2 separate regions of the Homo sapiens genome follow, and region 1 is linked to region 2. Evidence: fine-mapped expression QTL. A gene starts in region 2. The other region holds a variant in brackets. All regions are shown on one strand. Distances are between the middles of the regions. Region 1 overlaps ITGA9 (integrin subunit alpha 9). Region 2 holds the start of ACVR2B-AS1 (ACVR2B antisense RNA 1).

Evidence for each region.
Region 1: its variant is fine-mapped to the expression of ACVR2B-AS1 in stomach (GTEx, PIP above 0.99).

Annotation. Positions count from the first base shown.
Region 1 is chr3:37,774,093-37,784,954 of GRCh38, forward strand. ITGA9 (integrin subunit alpha 9) reads left to right here. Exons shown (of 28, transcript NM_002207.3): 24 at 3,300-3,425; 25 at 5,810-5,929. The region is part of intron 3 of ITGA9-AS1 (ITGA9 antisense RNA 1); the gene reads right to left. Among named protein-coding and RNA genes, the nearest start is that of ITGA9-AS1, 82 kb to the right of the region's middle. The variant C/T (reference allele first, on the strand shown) is at 6,196.
Region 2 is chr3:38,447,958-38,458,819 of GRCh38, forward strand. ACVR2B-AS1 (ACVR2B antisense RNA 1) reads right to left here and starts at 6,863. Exons shown (of 2, transcript NR_028389.1): 1 at 6,546-6,863; 2 at 3,070-5,268. It overlaps ACVR2B (activin A receptor type 2B), which reads left to right and starts at 5,933. Exons shown (of 11, transcript NM_001106.4): 1 at 5,933-6,417. The coding sequence starts at 6,366. It also overlaps a transcript of XYLB not described here. RefSeq lists enhancers at 5,515-6,014, 6,619-7,202, 7,203-7,787 and silencers at 5,733-5,782, 5,793-5,912, 6,333-6,612, 7,423-7,602.

The sequences.
Region 1 (10,862 bases), 670 kb before region 2:
AATTTGATTGGCACACACCAACGCCCACTTGCGTAGCACTGCAGCAGTTGTTTTCCTCATTTGTCTTGCAAGTGAATATTCATGCTGCTCCCCACATCAACAGCTTACGTATTGCTTTCTAAAATGGGCTTTCAAATATTTATTGCAACTTTCAACAATTGAACCCAAGGAATAATTACCAAATCTTCATTAAAGCTCATTGCCTCCTTCCCATTGTTTCCCTCTCGTGACCTCTAAAATCGTCCAGACCTGATGTTGATTGAGATCATTTCAGGCTAGTGTGTTTTCCCCAAATGTTGTCGTTCAAATAAAGTAATTGAGGCTGGGTGCAGTGGCTCATGCCTATAATCCCAGTGCTTTGGAAGGCCAAGACAGGCAGATTGCTTGAGCTAAGGAGTTCGAGACCAGCCTGGGTAATGTGGCAAAACTCTATCTCTACCAAAAAAAAAAAAAAGAAACCAGCAAAAAACAAAACAAAACAAAAACTAGCCATGTGTGGTGGCATGTGCCTATAGTCCCAGCTACTCAGGAGGCTGAGGAAGGAGGATCACCTGAGCCCAGGAGGTTGAAGCTGCAGTGAGCTGGACTACTGTACTTCAGCCTGGGAGACAGAGACCCTGTCTCCAAAAAAAAAACAAAAAACAAAAAACAAAATTTCCAAATTATTAGACACTTAAATTTTAAAGGACAGTAAGTCCCAAACTGTGAGAAACTTTTATAGGCAACATCCTCTTTTCTAATAGTTTAACTTGAGGATATAAACCTTCACCTTATTTATTTTCAGACATATATAGTAAATCCTGGAATGTATTCAGATCAAAGATAAAATAGAGATAAATTTAGCAAATTTTGGTGGTCTTGTTTTATAATTCACTATTAATAGATTAGCATTGTTAGCTTTAGTTTATTTGTGTAGCAAAAACTGACCAATAGAATCTAATTAAACTGAAGAGCTTCTACACAGCAAAAGAGACTATCAACAGAGTAAACAGACAACCTACAGAATGGAAGAAAATATTTGCAAACTATGCATCTGACGAAGGTCTGATCTCTGTCATCTATAAGGGACTTAAATTTGCAAGAATAAAACAACTCCATTAAAAGGAGGGCAAAGGACATGAACAGACACTTTTCTAAAGAAGACATACCTGCAGACAACAAGCATGTGAAAAACTCAGTATCACTGGTCATTACAGAAATGCAAATCAAAACCACGGTGAGATACCATCTCATACCAGTCAGAATGGCTATTATTAAAAAGTCAAAAATTGGCCTGGTGCGGTGGCTCATGCCTGTAATCCCAGCACTTTGGGAGGCCGAGGCGGGCGGATCATGAGGTCAGGAGATGGAGACCATCCTGGCTAACACGGTGAACCCCATATCTACTAAAAATACAAAAAAAAATTAGCCGGGCATGGTGGCAGGTGCCTGTTGTCCCAGCTACTCGGGAGGCTGAGGCAGGAGAATGGCTTGAACCCAGGAGGCGGAGCTTGCAGTGAGCCAAGATCGCGCCACTGCACTCCAGCCTGGGCAACAGTGAGCGACTCCATCTCAAAAAAAAAAAAAAAGCAAAAGTCAAAAATCAACAGATGATGGAGAGGTTTTGGAGAAAAGAGAATGCTTATACACTGTTGGTGGGAGTATAAATGTGCTCAACCATTGTGGAAAGCAGTGTGGCTATTCCTCAAAGAGCTAAAAGCAGAACTGCCAATTAACCCAGCATCCCATTACTGGGTATATATATACCCAAATGAATATAAATCATTCTACCGTAAAGACACATGCACATGAATGTTCATTGCAGCACTGTTCACAATAGCAAAGACATGGAATCAACCTAAATACCCATCAAAGACAGATTGGATAAAGAAAATGTTGTACAGATATACCATGGAATACTATGCAGCCATAAAAAAGAATGAGATCATGCCCTTTGCAGGAACATGGATGGAGCTGGAGGCCATTATCCCTAGCAAACTAACACAGGAACAGAAAACCAAATATCACATGATCTCAATGATAAGTGGGAGCTAAATTATGAGAACTCATGAACACAAAGAAGGGAACAACAGACACTGGAGTCTATTTGAGAATGGAGGTTGGAAGGAGGGAGAGGAGTAGAAAAAATAACTATTGGGTACTAGGCTTAGTACCTGGGTGATGAAATAATCTGTACCAAAAACCTCCATGACACAAGTTTACCTATATAACACACCTGCACATGTACTCCCAAACATAAAATAAAAGTTAAAAAAAAACCAACAGCAAAAAAAGTTTTTGTTCCCTACCATGAATAAAAAGTTGAAACATTCTTGAACAACTATATTTTACTCAAGGGCATTATAGACAGGGCAATTTAACAGATGCCTGTGGTTAGCCATGGGATTGTAAGCACAATTCTAAATTATGAATTACTAATTATTAATTTTCTGGTTTAACCTCACATCCTGTCCAGCCTTCAGCTACAACCAGTGTGATATGGTGATATATAAAGAAGACTTCATTTTTCTAACAGTTCCTCAATTTAAACATCAGAAAGAGTGCTGTTCTTAAGGAAATCATCAAGAAAGACTAAGCACCATTGTTTTGTTTCTGATGTTGCTGTCACTCAGCACCGTTGCCATTGCTGTCAGAAGCAAAATCAAATCACTCACCAAGAGCTCGGCAAGCATGCAGGTCCCCGTCTGGCTCAGGGCAGAGACTGGTCAGTTATTTTTTTGGTAGCAAAACTCTGGCTTTAGAGTTGGACCATGAGCAGTCCTGCTTGCTGCTCATTCCCTTTCTCTAGAAGGACCCCTAAGGAGTTTTACAGCACCGTGGGGGCTTTCTAGAATGGTTGAAAACCTCTGGCAGCAGATCATCCATCAGGCTTGGTCCCAAGTTCCAGACCTGGGTTCTTGACTCCATGACTGTTGGCCAGTGACCTAAGTTCAGTCTCATTTTCCTCATTCAGACAAGAATTGCTTGTAAGGATGTTCTTAAGTGTGCTTTCAAAACCATGGAGTATAAGGCTTATTTTACTCCTTAAGTCTTCCTATTTCCTAGTCACATCTCATTTGCATGTTATATGCCATCTCATCAATTATTGGGGGACCTAAGATCCACATTTTCTATTATTTGGCCCTGTTGATGCTACAACTTCTGCCTTTCAGCTTTTCAGCCATTGTTCTCCACTTCAAAATGGACAAGGAGGAAAGGTGAATTGGGGTTCTACCACTCCTGCCTCTACAATAAGAGGCTCCAGCATCATGATTCATTCTTGAGAATGACTCCTCTGACAGGCCTCTTTTCATTTGCAGGTGGGCCAAGAGAAGGGAAACTGCTCTTTCCAGAAAAACCCAACTCCCTGCATCATCCCTCAAGAACAAGAAAATATCTTCCACACAATATTTGCTTTTTTCACAAAGTCTGGAAGAAAAGTCTTGGTAAGGATTTGTTTAGTGGTTGGGGTAACACGGGTGGTCCTCACTCGGAAGACACCAGTTTTCTATTTGATATTTATTATTTCCTAAATCTGGTTTTAATCAATTTGACTTACAAAGGCACAGACTGTGGTCAACTCCTAATTTTCAGTCTGAGGTTTCAATCAAAATGTTAAATTTACATTCCAAATCCTATTACCTGGAAAAGGGATAAATCTTTGCAACCCACCAAGCACAAAGTAAAATGTTTCTTCCACTAGAATGAGTCTAAACAAGAGTGATTATTCTTGTGCAAACATTTTGGGAAACTGTTTGATAATATCTACTAAAACAAAACGTGTGTATCCTATGACACAGCCATTCTACTCTTGAGTATATCCCCAAGAAAAATGAGTACTTGTGCTTCCCAGAAAAGACATGAAAAAGGATGCTCACAGAAATGTTAAAATAGCTGAAAGCTGAGAACAATGCAGATATCCATCAATAGGAGAATAAGTAAGCAATTGTGGTATATCCATACACTGGAATATTACACAGTAATGAAAAATAACAAACTACTGCTAATGAATGAATCTCACAGACAGAATATATTGAGTGGAAGAAGCTAGAGACAAAAGCCACATATTGTAATATTTCACTTATACGAAGTTCAGAAATAGCAAAAACTAATCATGATGATAGAGGTCAAGAAGGTGGTTACTTTCAGAGGAATGTGGATGGGATGGGGCATGAGGGAGCCTGCTTAGATGCTGGAAATGTCCTACATCCTAATCAGGGTGGTAGTCCTCCAGGTATAAACACATGTAAAAATTTTTAAAGACAGGCCGGGCACGGTGGCTCATGCCTGTAATACCAGCACTTAGGGAGGCTGAGGGGGTGGATCACCTGAGGTCAGGAGTTTGAGACCAGCCTGGCCAACATGGTGAAACCCTGTATCTACTAAAAATACAAAAATTAGCTGGATGTGGTAGTGGGCGCCTGTAATCCCAGCTACTAGGGAGGCTGAGGCAGGAGAATCGGTTGAATCAGGGAGGCAGAGGTTGCAGTGAGCCAAGATCGTGCCACTGTACTCCAGCCTGGGCAACAGAGCAAGACTCTGTCTCAAAAAAAAAAAAAAATTATAAAGACACACACTTCAGATTTGTTCTATTTACTATATTTGTTACACCTCCATTTTTAAAAAGTGCAGGTATTGAAGATGGAATGACAATGCTTTCCAAAGCCTCCTTTTTTTTATCTTTGGTTACATTTCTCTAAGCTCCTTATTTCAGCCCTGGCACATCTCACCTTTATCATTTCCTTTCTCATTCTTTTCTCCTGTTGGAGAAGGGTGACTGTTTGCCACTTGAAAGGTTGGGTTTTTTTTTTTTTTTTTTTTTTTTACTTACATAGTGAGGGTGATATTGTTGAAAGCCCTTAGACTTGTTAGATGTAGTGATACCTAGTGATTTTATAGTTACGACTCTGTCTGGCTGAAAATTTTGCCGTATAGATGAAACATCATCAAGGTATGTATACGCATTTTGGAACCTATCATATAAAAAAGAAAACTTTTGTAACTTAAATTTGGGATTTATGTTTTTGGTTTTTTGTTTGTTTGTTTGTTTTGAGATGGAGTCTTGCTCTGTCGCCCAGGGTGGAGTGCAGTGGCATGATCTCGGCTCACTGCAGCTTCTGCCTCTCGGGTTCATGCAGTTCTCCCGCCTCAGCCTCCCCAGCAGCTGGGACTACAGGCGGCCACCACTATGCCTGGCTAACTTCTGTATTTTTTGTAGAGACAGGGTTTCACCATGTTGGCCAAACTGGTCTTGAACTCCTGATCTCAGGTGACCCCCCTACCTCAGCCTCCCGAAGTGCTGGGATTACAGGCGTGAGCCACTGCGCCCAGCCGAGATTTACGTCTCTATTGTAACTTTTGTGTTTTCTTGAGGAAGTGTCACATGACTTCTTAGCCCTCTTATTCACCTACCTAATAAATAGGCATGAAAGTATATTTGCCACTACACAGGTGGAAGTCACATAATGTAGGAAACGTGTCTGTGTTCAAAACTCATAAGAATGCTTTCAGAATGCAAAATTTAAGTTTGTGGGTTTAAAAAAAAAAACAATTATTTCTCTTTGTGAATTCATCCAATTCTTGGTAGGATAAATTAGTGAGCTGTTTTCTCCCAGTTGCTTGACTTAAAGGCATGCTCTGGTTCCCACTGGGTGGGAAATCCCTTGAATGCCCTCTGGTGGCGAGAAAGAACGATTGCATCTTCTTGTGGATTTCCTCTGCCTGGAATTGCCTTAGTCACCAAGTTCATGGAGCCCACTACTCTGTAAATTGTTGTGGATTTGTCTTTGTTCTTAATTCCATTGGAAATTTTTCTGACTTTTCTTCTCAGGACTGTGAAAAACCAGGAATTTCTTGCCTAACAGCACACTGTAACTTTAGTGCTCTTGCTAAAGAAGAAAGTCGTACTATAGACATTTACATGCTGCTGAACACAGAAATACTGAAAAAGGTAAGCCCTAATGAACCGCACTTGTGGATGCATTTAGAAGCATTTGAATTGTTGACATCTGATTTTGGGTAAAAAAAAGGAAAAAGGAAAGCATTTGAATTGGTGTCCTCATGACAATCTGGCTGCCCCCCCTTTTGGCTGTCTACAAGAGACTGTTTTTATTTTTATGTATTTAGGGGGTACAAGTGCAGACTTCTTATATGAATATATTGTATCGTGATGAAATCTGGGCTTTTAGTGTACCCAATAGTGAACATGGTACCCAA[C/T]AGGTAACTTTTCAACCCTCACCCCCCTCCCACATTTTGGAGTCTCCAATGTCTGTTAATTCCACTCTTTATGCCTATGGGTACCCATTACTTAGCTCCCACTTATAAGTGAGAACATGCAGTAGTTGACTACTTATGAGTTATTTCACTTAGGGAAATGGACTTCATTTCCATCCATGTTGCTGCAAAAGACATAATTTAATTCTTTTTTATGGCTGAGTAATATTCCATGGTGTGTGTGTGTGTGTATATATATATATATACCACATTTTCTATAACCAGTCATCCATTCATGGACACTTAAGTTGATTCCCTATCTTTGCTGTTGTGAATAGTGCTGCAATAAACTTACCAGTGCAGGTATATTTTTTATACAATACTTCTTTCCCTTTGGGTATATACCCATTAGTGTGATTGCTGGATGGAATGGCAGTTCTATTTTTAGTTCTTTGAGAAATCTCGATACTGCTTTTTTGATTGTACTAATTTATCTTCCCATCAACAGTGTATAAGTGTTCCCTTTTCTTTGCATCCTCACCAACATCTGTTGTTGTAGTTGTTGTTGTTGAACTGTTTAGTAATAGTCTGGCTGCCCCTTTTGAAACTTTTCCAGCAAGTGCCATTGGTAATTTTGCTGGTAGATAATGCCAGGGTAAAATACCAGACCCTTGCTACTCAAAGTGTGGTCCGAGGACCAGCAGCATCAGCATCACCTGAGAGTTTCTTAGAAATGCAGAATCCTGGGCTCCACCCCAGACTTAATAAATCGGCATCTTCATTTTTAACACATTCCCCAGGGATTTTGTTTGGCCATTTAAGTTTCTCATGCTTTAGCTTGCATCAGAATCACCTGGAGATCTTGTTCAAACACAGATTCCTTTGGGGTGCAGTCTGAGGCTCTCCAGTTGCCACAAGCACCCAGGTGATGCCAGTCCTGCAGTCTAGGGACCTCGCTTTGGATGAAGGTTGGCTAACCTTTTCTGTAAAGGGCCAGTGGTAAATATTTCAGGCTTTGCAGGCCCTACAGTCTCTTGCAACTGTTCAACTCTGCCATTGTATTGTGAAAGCAGCCATAGACAACACTCAAATAAATGGGCATGGCTGTGATCCAGTAAAACTTTATAAAAACAGGCAGAGGGCCAGATTTGACCCATGAGTCCTAGTTTAAATGACGGTTTGTTTTGGTCCAACTTTTGAACCTCAGGTCACTTTGCTATTATGAGTTTATCACAGGTGGTTCATTAAAAAACCACCTCAACCAGTGCATCGGTGGCTCTTGAAGAATCATACAAATTTCCTATGATTTATTTTAAGGTGAGAGCTGCTGAGAGGCCACTTCCAACAAGTTGCTGTAAAAATAATTACATGTGAAGATAAAACTAAATATGCATGTTAGCCTCAGAGATTCCAATTATTTTTCTTTAGAAAGACTAAATGTGTTAATCTGTACAAACCTATCCACGTGTGAATGAATAACCTTAGAAAAGTCATTCTGTGGTTATTTTTAAATAGGCACAGAGGTAACACACTGACCTGAGAGGATGCAGGCATCAGGGGATGTTTTTCCATTTTCAATCTGTAGCCGTTACAGCCCTCACACACCTGAAGAGAGCTGTGCATAGTTCTGGTTTCTCTGGTTTGCTCTGGAGGGAAACTGGTTTGGGGCAAGTTGGACTCACACTGCAGTGCTTTCTTCTCCCTTTGTACCTCTCCCTTTATAAAGGACAGTGTTGGAGGAGGACCAGGCCTGACTTAGAGCACCACTGGCCATCCTCTGATTCCATAAGGGAGGCTGGAAAACCCCACGTCTGGAGAAGTACCTTCCTGAAATGTGTCCGCAGGCCAGGCTGGAGGACTATGCCTCTGCATATGTACCTGTCCTGTTTGTATTCTTCAAAAATGGTGCTGCAGACAGTTTTATTGCCTGTGCCATACTTGCCACTGTCCATAGAGCCCTGGTGACAGCACTGGTGGCTGTAAGCCACTCTGATGTTTCCTTTATCCTCAACCCAGATGGCTGCTGCTTGCACTTCAGTTATTTGCACTTAATCATGCACAGCTCTGCAGCCTGGTTCTTCTGCTTTTCTATCCCGGCAGCCAGTGGTGACCCTTTGCCAAGGAACATGTCCCAGTGACTACTGTCCCCATGGGCCAGCCAGGCCAGTAGAGCCGCAGGCAAGAGAGCTGAAAGCTGTAGGGTGTCATATGAAGCCTTCAAGGCTCATTCTCCATGTGCCCTTTCAGCAGAAACCAGGAGCACTTCCAGGTGCAGAGAAAAGCTTAGAACAAAGTTGACCTGGAAGCCAGATGGGGCCCCAGCTGCTCCCAGAGCTTCAGTTGCCCTGAAGCCAGCTACAGCCTCCCTTGGGGAGTGGAGCCCACATGGCTCCAGGCCTCCCGAAGGATGTGGAGCAGCGCCAGCCTTGTGGTTTGCCTGGGCCTGCAGTCGTGTTTATTTTCCTTTTGACCTCAAGATCTGGCCCCAGACAAGGGAATTTGAGGTTTTACTGTTTTGACCTTAACAAGTTTTCATTTGAAATGTAGGATCTGATTTTTAAAATCACTGTAGGAGCCGGGCGCAGTGGCTCACGCCTGTAATCCCAGCACTTTGGGAGGCTGAGGTGGGCATATCACAAGGTCAGGAATTCAAGACCAGCCTGGCCAACATGGTGAAACCCCATCTCTACTAAAAAATACAAAAATTAGCCTGGCATGGTGGTGGGCACCTGTAGTCTCAGCTACTCGGGAGGCTGAGGCAGAAGAATCGCTTGAACCTGGGAGGTGGAGGTTGCAGTGAGCCAAGATCGTGCCATTGCACTCCAGCCTGGGCAACAGAGCGAGACTCTGTCTCAAAAAAAAAAAATCACCGTAGGATTCGGATTTTTTTGGAAGTATTCTTCTTTCAGTCTGTAAGGCTTTTCTCACTGATTCTACAACCGTGGGGGCCCATCCTGTGCCAGACTCCTCGTCTGCTTGGCCTGTAACGTTGGCAATTATCATCATCATTATCGTTATTAATATCCAAGTTTATTTTTATTTATTTTAATGTTTTTATTTAAAAAAATATTTTTAGAGACAGGATCTTGCTCTGTCACCCAGATGGGAGTACAGTGGCTCAATCATAGCTCACTGCAGCCTCAAACTCCTGGGCTCAAGTGATCTTCCTGCCTCAGCTAGTCCTCAGCTAGGACTGCAGGCACATGCTACCATGACAGGTGAATTTTTTTTTAATCTTTTGTAGAGATAGGATGTTTCCCCAGGCTGGACTTGACCTCCTAGCCTCAAGTGATCCTCCCACTTCAGTCTCTCAAAGTGCTGGGATTACAGGCCTTAACCATCGTGCCTGGCCCAAGATTATTATTATTATTCAAGATTGAAAATACAGCATATCCTGATACATAAAACCCCAACTTTATAAAACTGTTAAATTGGTAAAAGATTATTTGTTGCTTAAAATTATTTCTTGCTTAAAGTGAGTTAACTGGAGTAACTCTTTTGAATGACAAGCTTCCCAAAAGCATTTAAAATGTGTCTTATGGTTGTTTTAAGAAAAGAATGATAATTGGTGCATAACTCCCAAGTCACATATACAGACCAGGGTCCCTGTGTGCCCCAGGAAGGTCTTTGTGGTTTCTTTGGCAGAGATGAGCAAAGGGTACCCTTGGAACTGTTTTCTGTGGAGTCCTCTACCTTCCTGTTTCTTTGAGGGTTTAACCAAAGGTGGCATTTAAGTGTAAGCTCCTTGCATGACAGGCAAGCTGGGTAGATGTAGGTGGGGACACCACAAGACACCTTGCCTGTGGAGCCCCTCCTGCCCCACAGGTAGAATGTTGAATGCACTAGTTCTCTGCTATCTGTTTCCACGACAGAAGCCAGGCTGCCCTTCTGCTCCACAATCAACCTGTACCACTGGCTTGAGGTTCTGGCTTCTCCCCAGACCACAGTTTTTCCAGTCCCTGTCTTCTTCCAAATTCTTTCTCCATCCCTGTTTTGGCGCCATTTTCTGGTTATCTGGATCAGTGTCTTTGAATCTGAGCCCACAGGAAGACCTCTGCCTGCCTCTGGCTGGGGGGTGATTCCAGAGTCTTAGCTGTGCTCCCTTATACCCCTGCCCCTTTCTCCTTAATTCATAAGCCAGATATTTACCCCTTCCCCATCTCTCCATCAGGCATCCTCTTTCAATGTTTAATGGTTTTGATTCCAAAATGACTTCATTTAAGAGCAAAGAAAGAGTTAAAAGCAACTCATATGAAGGGTTTGAGGGTTGTGGTCAAGGCAGGAAGATGCCTATAAAATGTAGATCAGATGCCTTCTGTGGAATGCCAGGCCTAGATTTGCTCTACACAATTAAACAGCTTTATTTATCCTCAACTCTTTGTGAACATGTCAATATCAATATCCAAATATCTGGCTCTAACTGCTTGGAAACCACAGCACACATCTTGCGTGTGTTGATTACTGGCAAACTCCATCATTTCCCACCATCCACCATGATCTGCAAAGAATCCTTAAGAGAGACCCTAGTCTGTGTTTATGTGGGTGCCTGGGATGGAGAGGTATCTAGTTCAATGATAAAATTTTTGTCTGGGCTACATGGAATCATGGAATTTCAGTTCTGCCCAGTCCCTCTCAAGGCCCAGCCATTATCATAGAAAAATCTTCAAGTA
Region 2 (10,862 bases):
TGTAATCCTAACACTTGGAGAAACTGAGGAGGAAGGATTGCTTGAGCCCAAGAGTTTGAGACCAGCCTGGGCAACATAGTGAGACCTTGTCTCATAAATTTTAATTAAAAAAAAAAGAAACCCTGTCATTGGCAGCATCGTGGATGGATCTGGATATATCTTAAGTGAACTAAGCCAGGCACAACAAGACAAATATATATTCTCACTTATATGTGGAAACTAAAATATTTTATTTTATGGCAGTAGAGAGATAGATAACAGAGACTGGGAGGGGTGAGTAGGGAGCTGGGGTGGGTGGGTGAAGAGAACTGGGTTAAAGGGTACAAACATACAGATAGAATAAACTCAATGTCTGATAGCTGAGTAGGGTGACTATATTTAAGAATAATGTATTGATCTTGGGTGATGGATACCTAAATGCCATTACTTGAACAATACACATTATATACATGCAACAAAATTTCTCATGTCCTCCATGAATTTGTACAAAAATACCTGTAAAAATCAAATTAAACTAAAATCCTTGACTGATAATCCCATTATCTCTGTCACTTCTGTATCTGTTCCTATTGAATGATTTTTCTGCTTCTTTTGGGTCACATTTTCCTGCTTCTTCCTATGCTTAGTAATTCTTTTATTAGATGTGGGCATTTAAAATATTTTTTTACTGAGTGTCAGATTGATAGAATTTCTTTAAAAAGTGATGGTTCCTCTGGTGGGTAGTTAAATTAACTTATAGATCAAGTTGATCATGTCAAGGCTTGTTCCTTTAGCTTAGTATTGAGGTTTACAATAGCCTTTATTATCTAGGGCTGGTTTAGCTCCACTATGGAGTGACTCTCTGGGTCTCTACTGAATGTTCTGAGTTTTCCATGAAGACTCCAATTTTGCTGGGTGGAGCTAAACATTTCCCCATCCTGTGTGAATTCTTGGAGGTTCTCAGGTATGTCATATACCCTGTTGTATCCTGCTCCCTCTTGCGCAGAGGCTCGCCCACACAGCTTTTGTTGCTATTAGTAGTTTGTCTCTATTTGCTTGTATTTTGATGTTTTGAGGGAAATCCTGTCACCTGGTTTTTCAGTGAGTGCACTTGGATGGTCTGGTTTTTTCCATACAGTTGCTCTGTGTTTTTCATTTTTATTTATTTATTTATTTTAATTAATTAATTATTGCTATTTTGTGAGACATTCAAGTCTTGCTCTGTTGCCAGGCTGGAGTGCAGTGGCATGATTTTGGCTCACTGCAACCTCCACCTCCTGGGTTCAAGTGATTCTCCCACCTCAGCCTACTGAGTAGCTGGGACTACAGGTATGTGCCACCATGCCCAGCTAATTTTTGTATTTTTAGTAGAGACAGGGTTTCACCGTGTTGGCCAGAATGGTCTCGATCTCTTGACCTCGTGATCCACCTGCCTTGGCCTCCCAAAGTGCTCAGATTACAGGCGTGAGCCACCATGCCCAGCCTTATTTTTATTTATTTTTAACAAACGGGGGTCTCACTATGTTGTCCAGGCTAGTCTTGAACTCCTGGGCTCAAGTGATGCTCCTGCCTCAGCCTCCTGATGTGCTGGGATTACAGGCATAAGCCATCACACCCAGCTTACTCTGTGTTTTCATGTGAAGATTTTGAAAGATTCAAAAACAATGCAGCCAACAACCTAACCATCATCTTCCCAGTCTGGTAGAAGTTTTAAGGGCCAGCATTTACCATGCTCTCTTTCCCTTGTCTCTCCAATAGTAGAAGCATGTATCAAAAGGTAGCCCTCTTAGTCTGTGTCCCTGAGTTATTACAATGAGTAGAGCTTGTTTGTTGACCTCCAATGGATATGTATCACGAGAAAGATATAAATTTTGTTATTTTAAGCCATTAAGGTTTTGGGATTTTTCCATTAGCACAGCATAATCTAATCTCTCTTGAGAGATAGTGTTAGCTTTCTACCCAAGCCAATTCATTTTTTTGACCTCAAGTAACCACCATTAAGTTAAGAGAAAGGGGCGGGGAAAGTACGAGGTCTAGGAAGAAAATAAATAAGGCAAAGAAATAAAGCACTTTGAGAACTGTGTCTAGGAAATAACAGATAGCTTATTAAGTCTTGGGGGAACTGTATTACCAAAGAAAGTATACACTGCCCACCCCTCCCCCAACAATTATACACTGTGAATGGTACTCTCATAAAATTGTTTAATTTCGTATTGCTATGCCTAAATTACCCACTACAGTGAATGTCTAACCAGGGCCTCTCAGAAACTGAGAGAGGGTGAGGCCACTTATATTTTCTCAAATGAAGAAATTCCCAAATAACATTATAAAAACTGTGGTTACTTTCAAAGTTTATCTTGCTAAATGAATGTATTTAATCCCTTAATAGAATTCATTATAATTATATAGATGCCAAGTCTTATTACAATGCTATAGTTTTCCATCTTCTTCCATAGCTTGATACTAAAGAATGTCATGTTCAACTGATTCTTCTCAATTCCTTGGTTTCTGGTCTTGATTGTTGAAGGGTGGGGAAGCCAGGGAATAGTGGTCCTAACACACTGAATGCCTTAATGGCAGAATTCACTGCCATAAATTCTACAGCAGACATTTGGGGTTTCAGATTTTTTTTGCCTTTCAGTTTTTGGTCACCCGATGTCTGATACCAAATGTGATATTTAGCAATCTTGTAGTCGTTCAAAAGAACAGAAAACCCAAATAGAACTCGTTTTTCAAATATCCATTATCACCTTTCTCAACCAGCCTAGTATTTGCTTGATGAGCTCATGATCAAAATGATGGCAGGGAATCACTTTGGTTACTATATGGAAGATTTATTTAAGGCAAGAATGAATTCAGAGGACCAGTTAAGCTCCCTTCTGGTTCACTGCTATTGCAACAGTCCAGATATAAGACAATGTTGCAGTAGTGTACATGGAAAAAAGTAGTCGGATGGTGGATACACTTTTGAGGCTATTTTGCTGATGGACTGTATATGGGAGGAATCAAGTATTGTTACCGAAACACCAGGGGTTTGGTCTAGGTCCTGCTGCTCGGTGCACAGAAAGCCAATCACTGAGATGACAAGTATTGCCAAGGAAGAAGGCTTTAATCAGGTGCTGCAGCCAAGGAGATGGGAGTGCAGTCTCAAATCCATCTCCTTGACTGACCAAAACCAAGGGTTTATATAGCAGGAAAGAAATGTAACAATATGTAAGAAAACAGGAACATGGGAGGGGCAAGGAAGCAATCATGGTGACTGAGGGGCCCAGCATCTAGTGCAGTGATCTGGTTTCAGTTCTTTTGATACTTTTTATGGCTTCAGTTCTTTGATACTTTTTGTGAGAGGCCTGAAGGTCCTTTCCTGAGGAAGGAACTCGGATAAAACAAGTAAGTTTCCAGCTTTAACTGCAAAAGGGTCAACTTCTATAATCCCAGCACTTTGGGAGGCTGAGGCAGGCAGGTCACCTGAAGTTGGGAGTTCAAGACCAGCCTGGCCAACATGATGAAACCCTGTATCTACTAAAAATACAAAACTTAGCTGGGCATGGTGGCGTGCCTGTAATTCCAGCTACTTGGGAGGCTGCGGCAGGAGAATCACTTGAACTCAGGAGGTGGAGGTCGCAGTGAGCCGAGATCGTGCCACTGCACTCCAGTGAGGGCAATAAGAGCCAAACTCTGTCTCAAAAACAAAAACAAAAACAAAAACAAAAACAACTGTCTATGGGACTCTTTGGCTGGTTTCAGTAGGACTCATAAGGTTCTGATTTGAGCAATGGTGTAGTTGCTTATGCCATTGATTCAGACAGGGAAAACTGGGGAGGAGATTTACGGGGAAAATGAGGACTTCTGCTTTGGCTAGGTCAAATTTGAGATGCCTGATAGGCTACCAACTGCAGTTGTCAAGTAAGCAGTTGGATATAAATTTGGGGTTCCCAGACAGGTCAGAGTGGAAGACACAGATATTTGGGCAGCTTGGACCACTCTGAGTCCTTATTATGATACCTGACCTGGTATGGAGTAGAAGAGAGGAACCAGCCAATCTAATTTTTGGCACATGGATAAAAGTCGATACCTTTCAGTCCATATTGGAATGGAGATAACGATTTATACTCCCTAGAAAAGACACTTAAACTGGATATGGAATTACTTCCGTTATCACAGTCTATCACTGTGGCCTCCTGTGTTATTACCAGATACCTTATACACAGCTAGGGTGTCCCATACAACACTGCTTCTTGCTTGGCACACAGTCGCATAGTATTCAATCCTGTGTTAAATGGCTTAGATAATAAGTCACCTGTAGGGATTATAGCAAGCAGGGACCATCATTTTCACATAGAATTTCCCAGGACTGGAAGGGACTTTTAAAGACCCAGAAATCTTTCTGGGCAGTGCCTCCAAAGTGTGGCCCCTGAGGTGTTCCTGCTGCTCTGGTGACCGGGGGTAGTTGACCCTATTTCAATGTCAATCAGAACAATATACATTCCTTTATAAACTTGTTTTTTTTTTGAGAGAGAGTCTCACTCTGTCACCTAGGATGGAGTGCAGTGGTGCAATCTCAGCTCACTGCAACCTCCGCCTCCCTCCTGTGTTCAAGCGATTCTCCTGCCTCAGCCTCCTACCGAGTAGTTGGAATTACAGGTGTGTGTCACCATGCCCAGCTAATTTTTGTATTATTTAGTAGAGACAGGTTTTTGCCATGTTGGTCAGGCTGGTCTCGAACTCCTGACCTCAAGAGCCTCCTGGGCCTCTAAAAGTGCTGGAATTACAGGTTTGAGCCACCTCGCCCTGCCTATAGTGAACATTTACATAATATTTTGTTTGACTAGGTTTCTGCCATTAAGAAGATGCAAAACCCTGAGGGAGTGTACCTCTTCACTTTGCATATGGGAAAACTGAGGCTCAGAGAAGTGAAATGACTGAGACCTCCAGGTGCCACCTCCCTTTCAGCTGCTCCTGCCCTGCTCCAAGCAAGGATGTGCCAAGTCAAGAGAAGACAGAGGACAATTAATGTTATCTGAGGATCTCGGAGCCTCATCCCTGAGCTATGATGGTCTTTCCCTCCTTAGTTGGGAGCCCCATCACGTTCCTCCGAAGCTCTAGTTGTGTGATAAGGAGGGTGGAATCTGAGACAGAGAACGATGGCCCTCCAAGGAGGGAGTTCGGGGTGAGGAAAACAGCAAAACCATGTGCTAGACAAGATCTTCAACTGCAGGGCTCTGGAGGCAACTGGGAAGTTTTGAAAGTGCAGATTGAAGCTCAGGGCCGCTGTGGGTGGCGCAGGAACTGCAGAAGACAAGATAGGATTAGGGAGGGCCAGCAGGTTGCCAGAGGCCCTTTTCCACCTGCTGGGCTTAGAGGGGCGGGACTCTGCCCGCTCCCTCACTTGGTTGGGTTTAAATGACCACTCCCCGCCCTAGCTGTGCCTTTGAGTGTGTGGCAAGGGATTGCAGACGGGAGACTGCTTGTCAATTCAGGGAAGTCAGCCTCTTTCTGCCACTTAATTCGCCCATCAGTAGAGATCCGACTTTCCCACGGTTCACTGTCACCCCCATTGCACAGGTGGGGAATCCAAGGCACAGAGGCGTCTGGGCCAGAGTCCCGGGACTATCCACTCATTCCGGGGTTGTAGGGCAGCATGTGTCAGGAGCTTGGGCTCGAGCGTGCGGGGCACTAATTGCGAGTGCAGTGGCCACAGGCTCCCGGGCAAAGTGGTCAGGAGCCCATTCCCGCCACCTCCGTCCGCGCGCCCCGCCCTGTCCTCCAGCAAGTTGGTGCACGCGCGTCCTCCCACAGGGCGCGGGATGGGGGCGGGGCCTCCGTGTTGTTGTTTCTCTGGGGCCCCGCCCCTCAGGGGGGCGCGGACCACGCGGCCGGAGGGCCCGCCTCCCCTCCCCCTCCCCGCCCAGCCCGCCCGCCTCTTTGTATCCAACATCCGGGTTTCCCCGCTGGCTCGGCTCCGTGGCCGCCGCTCAGGAGCCATTTTGGACTCGGTTCAGCTCCCCTCCCCCCCACCCCTCCCCCCGTTCATGGCCCCTCCGGACTCGGCCCCTGCGCCCGGGGCCCGGGCCCAGCCCCGCCGCGCTATGCCTGAGTCGGGCGCGCCCCGGCCCGTGCCCCGCCGCCGCCCCCCGGCCCCCGCGTCGCCCCGGAGCCCGGGCCGCAGCCTGCGCCGCCCGCAGCGGCCCTGAGCCCGGCCCCGCCGACCGGCCCTTGGAGCCCGAACGCTGCTCGGGGACGAAGGCGCAGGAAGCGCGCAGGGAACGAGACCGAAGGAAGGAGCGGGAAGGAGAGCGCAGCCGCCGCCTGGCCCTGCGCGCCCCGGGAGCGCCGTGCGGCCCTGCCCGCGGGCTCCGGGTGTGCGCGGGGCGGCGCCGCGGAACATGACGGCGCCCTGGGTGGCCCTCGCCCTCCTCTGGGGATCGCTGTGCGCCGGTAAGAACTGGGCGCGGCGCGGGGACGCCGAGAGGGCGCGCGGGGCTGGCCTCTGGCGCCGCGCGGTGTTTACCAACAAAGGGCGGGCCCGGGGCCTCGTCGCCGCACCACCTGTATTCAGCCCTCACCTCCGGGGGCGTGGGCTGGGGGCGCGGTGGGCGCCCGGCTCGCCGAACTTGGGGGCACGATCTTGTCTGTGCAGTCATCTGCGGGATTCTGGTTCCTAGAGGCGCCCCTGCGATGGGGGCCGGGACGCGGAGCCTCAGGGTCGGAGTTCGGGCTACGCGGGCGCGTGGAACCCAGGGAAAGAGTGAGGAAAACCTGAGCGTGGGGAAGGCGGCCAAGAGGGGTGGGCAGATCTCATTGGGGGTGGCAGGATTGTAGGTGCAGCAGCAGCAGCAGCATGCGGGGAGGGTTGCATGTCCCTCAGAGTCACTAAGTGTAGCGAAGCGAAGGGGGCGGCTTCACGCAGCCCAAAGTCCCCTGCATCTCTTGCCACCAGTCTGCGTCGCGTTACCGGCCCGGCGGGCTGTTGGTGCTGGCTCCCACCTGCTCCCTCTTTCCCTGCCGTTGGCCCCGGGATGCGGAGTGTGGTCGCTTCGCGGGACCGCTTTGTTTGGGCACTTGGGAGGGGAGGGGGTGGGTAAGATGGAAAACCCAACAGGTCCCTCTTCCTTCGGGCCTCCAGGAGGCACGTGGCGGGGTGGGTGACCAGCGCTCAGCTCGCCCGCGGCTGCGGGCGTGTGGCTGGAGGTGTTCGGCCAGCGCATGTGTGTTTGGGGGTATGTGGGCGCGGGCGTAAACAAGCGGAGTTCCGCCTGGAAAGCTTGTTTCTCCTACGGTCCAAGCACCGATTTCCCTCTCTCAGTGGTGCCGGGGTGCGCCTAACCCCGGCGGGCGCGCCGGGACGTCCCCTGGCCAGTCCTGGGAAACGTGGGGAGCTGGGCATTGAAGCTCTGGCGAGAAGGTCGGGGCGGCTGGTACCCGGCCGCCGGGTCCTGCGCGTCTTTGTTCCCAGCCCCCATTACACATGCAGCGCGGGTCCCCCGCCGCCCTCGGTGGCAGCCGCCTGGAGTCTGGGAAACCCTCGAGGGGCGGGGCCGGGCGTGCAGGGGCGGGGCCGGAGTCCCCACGCTGCTGCGGGGGTGGGGATTTGGGATCTGCGTCCCATTCCCACCCTGGTTCTACCTTCTCCTGTGCGTCGTCGTGAGGCTTAGTTTACACCGAAAGCGAGTGAGTTCTGTAGGGTAGTAGCGCGCGCGCGCGCAGCCTGAGTCCGGAAACCGAAGGGCAAAGACCAGCTGGCACCTGAGTACCGTATGGAAGAGGGCGTTGCAGCTCTCCTGGAGCCGCTTCTTGGAGGCGAAGTGGTGGTCGTGTTGGACTTTCTGCTCTTTTTTGCCCCGCTCCCTTGGGATGCCTTTTCCCCAAGAAGGAGTGCTCGAAAGTGAAAGGGGAGGCATTGGTCTGCTAGAGGGAGGGCGGCAGCAAGCTGACTTGATAGGCAGACCGCAGCCCACCTGACTGCCTCCAGACCCGCTGGGTGCCTGATCCCTGGAAGTGCTGGGGCTCTTCCAAGCCCAGGCCTTTAGGAGAGCTTCCTCCCAAGACAGGACAGCTTGAGACCTGGGATCTGGGGATCACACCAGTCTCACACCTCCCTCCTTAGGCAGGGCAGGGCGGCATCAGACCCCTGGAAGGACTGTATGTCCTTTCTTTTTCCTCTGCTTCAGTCACCTAGCTTGGGCAGTGCTGAGCAGTGTACCCTGCCAGGGGGCAGTCAGAGTCACACTATAAGGACCTGTATTCCTGCCCTGGGAGGAAGGTGGGGGTCACTGGGTATTTCTTGTAGTCACATCAACCAGTCCCTGACCTGTGGAGAACTGTGAAAAGAGCTGCCCCAGGCCCAGTTTGGAGCAGACCTGACCGTCCTGTTGCTTTGGCTTCAGGGATGCCCTTTAATTTCAAGCTCCTGGCTTGCTGTTTGGAATAACCCCCATACTGTGCAGCACACAATGCCTGCTAGAAGGAACATCTAGAAGAGTGCTGTGTGACAGAAATAGTGTATGAACTATGGATAGATATAAAACAACGTTTTCTAGTAGTCGTGTTAATAAAAGGAAGAAGAAACAGCTGTGTCTTAGCTGGGGCTGCCATAACAAAATACTGTAGACTGGTGGCTTAAACAGCAGAAATTTATATTGTCAAAGTTCTGGAAGCTCTAAGTCTGAGCCCAGGGTGCAGGGTGCTGGCATGGTTGGGTTCTGGTGAGGACCCTCTTCCTGGCTTGCAGATATCTGCCTTCTTACTGCATTCTCAAATGACAGGGGTGGGGTGGGGCAAGGGGGTGTTTTCCTCTTTTTGTAAGACTGTGAATCCTGTTCTCATTACCTGATGGCCCCACCCTCATGACTTAATCTAACCCTCACTACCTCCCAAAGGTCCCGTCTCCAAATACCATTACACTGGGGGTCAGAACTTCATTGTATGAATTTTGGGGGGACACATTCTTTCCATGAGATGGAATGAACTTCAATAGTATATTTTACTGGCCTGGCACAGTGGCTCATGCCAGTAATCCCAGCACTTTGGGAGGCTGAGGTGGGAGGATCACGAGGTCAAGAGATCGAGACCATCCTGGCCAACGTGGTGAAATGCGTCTCTACTAAAAATACAAAAATTAGCTGGGTGTGGTGGCACACGCCTGTAGTCCCAGCTGCGCCAGAGGCTGAGGCAGGGGAATGGCATGAACCCGGGAGGTAGAGGTTGCAGTGAGCCGAGATCATGTCACTGCACTGCAGCCTGGTGACAGAGTGAGGCTCCGTCTCAAAAAAAAAGTATATTTCACTGAATTTGATATATACAAAGTAATTTCAGCCTGAGATCAGTATTAAAACGAGACATTTTGCATTCCATTTTTGTACTGTCATCAAAATCCAGTGTGTGCCTTACAGAACATCCTCAACTCTAACTTTCCACATTTCCAGTGCTCTGCAGAACATTTGGTTAGTGGCTACCATATTAGACAATGGAATCTCAGAAGGGAAGGTAGAATTTATGGTGTAATAAATGTCACATGGTGCTTGTCACAAGATCAGTCAGTGGTTAGTTGGTTCTTTAATAATTCTTCAAGTCTTTTGTGGTCTGTGCTTGGCCGAGTGTCCTTGGGAAACAAGCCATTTGGCTCTTGCATTTCAGTGGACATCCTGGACACTCAATGCTGTATCCTACAAGAACTCCTGACACCTGTCTCTGTACTCTGTACTTGGGGTTCAGATCAAAGGGCTTATGGGGGTGGGGTAAACAGTATTCTAAGTGAAGTGACCAGAGCTCTTGGAGAGGGACCTGCCTCCTGTCTATCCCATCAGGAAGTGCAGGCCCTGATTACTCTGATAGGCTGACCCAAAGAAGTTTCTTGGCCACTTCCTTGGGGGAGGGCGGAGGGAGTGAGCTCATGAAGTGAAGTGACTTTCATCCCTCAGGCCTAGTGTAGCGGTAGCTGCCAAGGACATGGGCTACAGAGCCATGGGCCGTGGGTGCCCCTCCCAGAGAAGAGTGTTTTCTGCTACCTGTCCTTGTATCTGCTGGGCACTCGAGGCTCTGCCCTGTCTGGGTGGGCTGCCTTTTGGGAGGAATGGGTATCCTCCCTAGCTCTTAGGGGCCCTTTCAAGGCAGATGATGTGAGAAACCTGCCCATCTTTCCAGGCCCTATAGCTGGGTAAAAACATAAGATCTAAACCCTATGGCCTCCCATCACTTGGGTGGGCCTCTACTGTGTACTACTCTGTGGGTCTTTCTGGGCATCAAGAATCTCCAGAAGCACCTGGACCTCTGCTGGCACTTCACCTAAGGAACTCCTGTTATAAGGAGCCAATGAAGAGCCCACATTCTATACAGTGGTCCTCCATGTCATAGACCCCTCTGAGAATCTGATGAAAGCTGTGGACCCTTCCTCCAGGAAAATGTAAATCGGTATATGTGTGCATGTGTGTGTACATTGTATGCACCCACTCTGTTTTGTACAGATACTGGGAACCTACTGCCCCCTGATTAGACTCCTTGAAGTCCTGGCTGCCCTGCACATATCCACTGTAGTAGTCTTAAGGGGCAGCTTGTTCTGCGGGGGAGGGGTGCTTTTTCCACCTTGGTACCTCACTTACTTTGCCTTTTGTGATCCTGCCGGATGTTCAGATTCTAGCCCTGGTCTCTCTTTCCAGAAAGCTGTCCTCTTGAGTGCCAGCCTATGCATTCAGCCCCTCTGCTTGGGAGCTCAGGGTAGTGCAAATGAGAACCAAGGAGTATCGGTTCAGGAGTTTAGATCCACTCACGGATACTGACCTGTCACCATGGATTGGGATCTGGAGGGTTGAGGACTGGGTCTGGATAATATTTTTGCTAGTGACTGTAGATAGACTCTAGATAGTCCTGAGGCAGGGTCCTGGTTG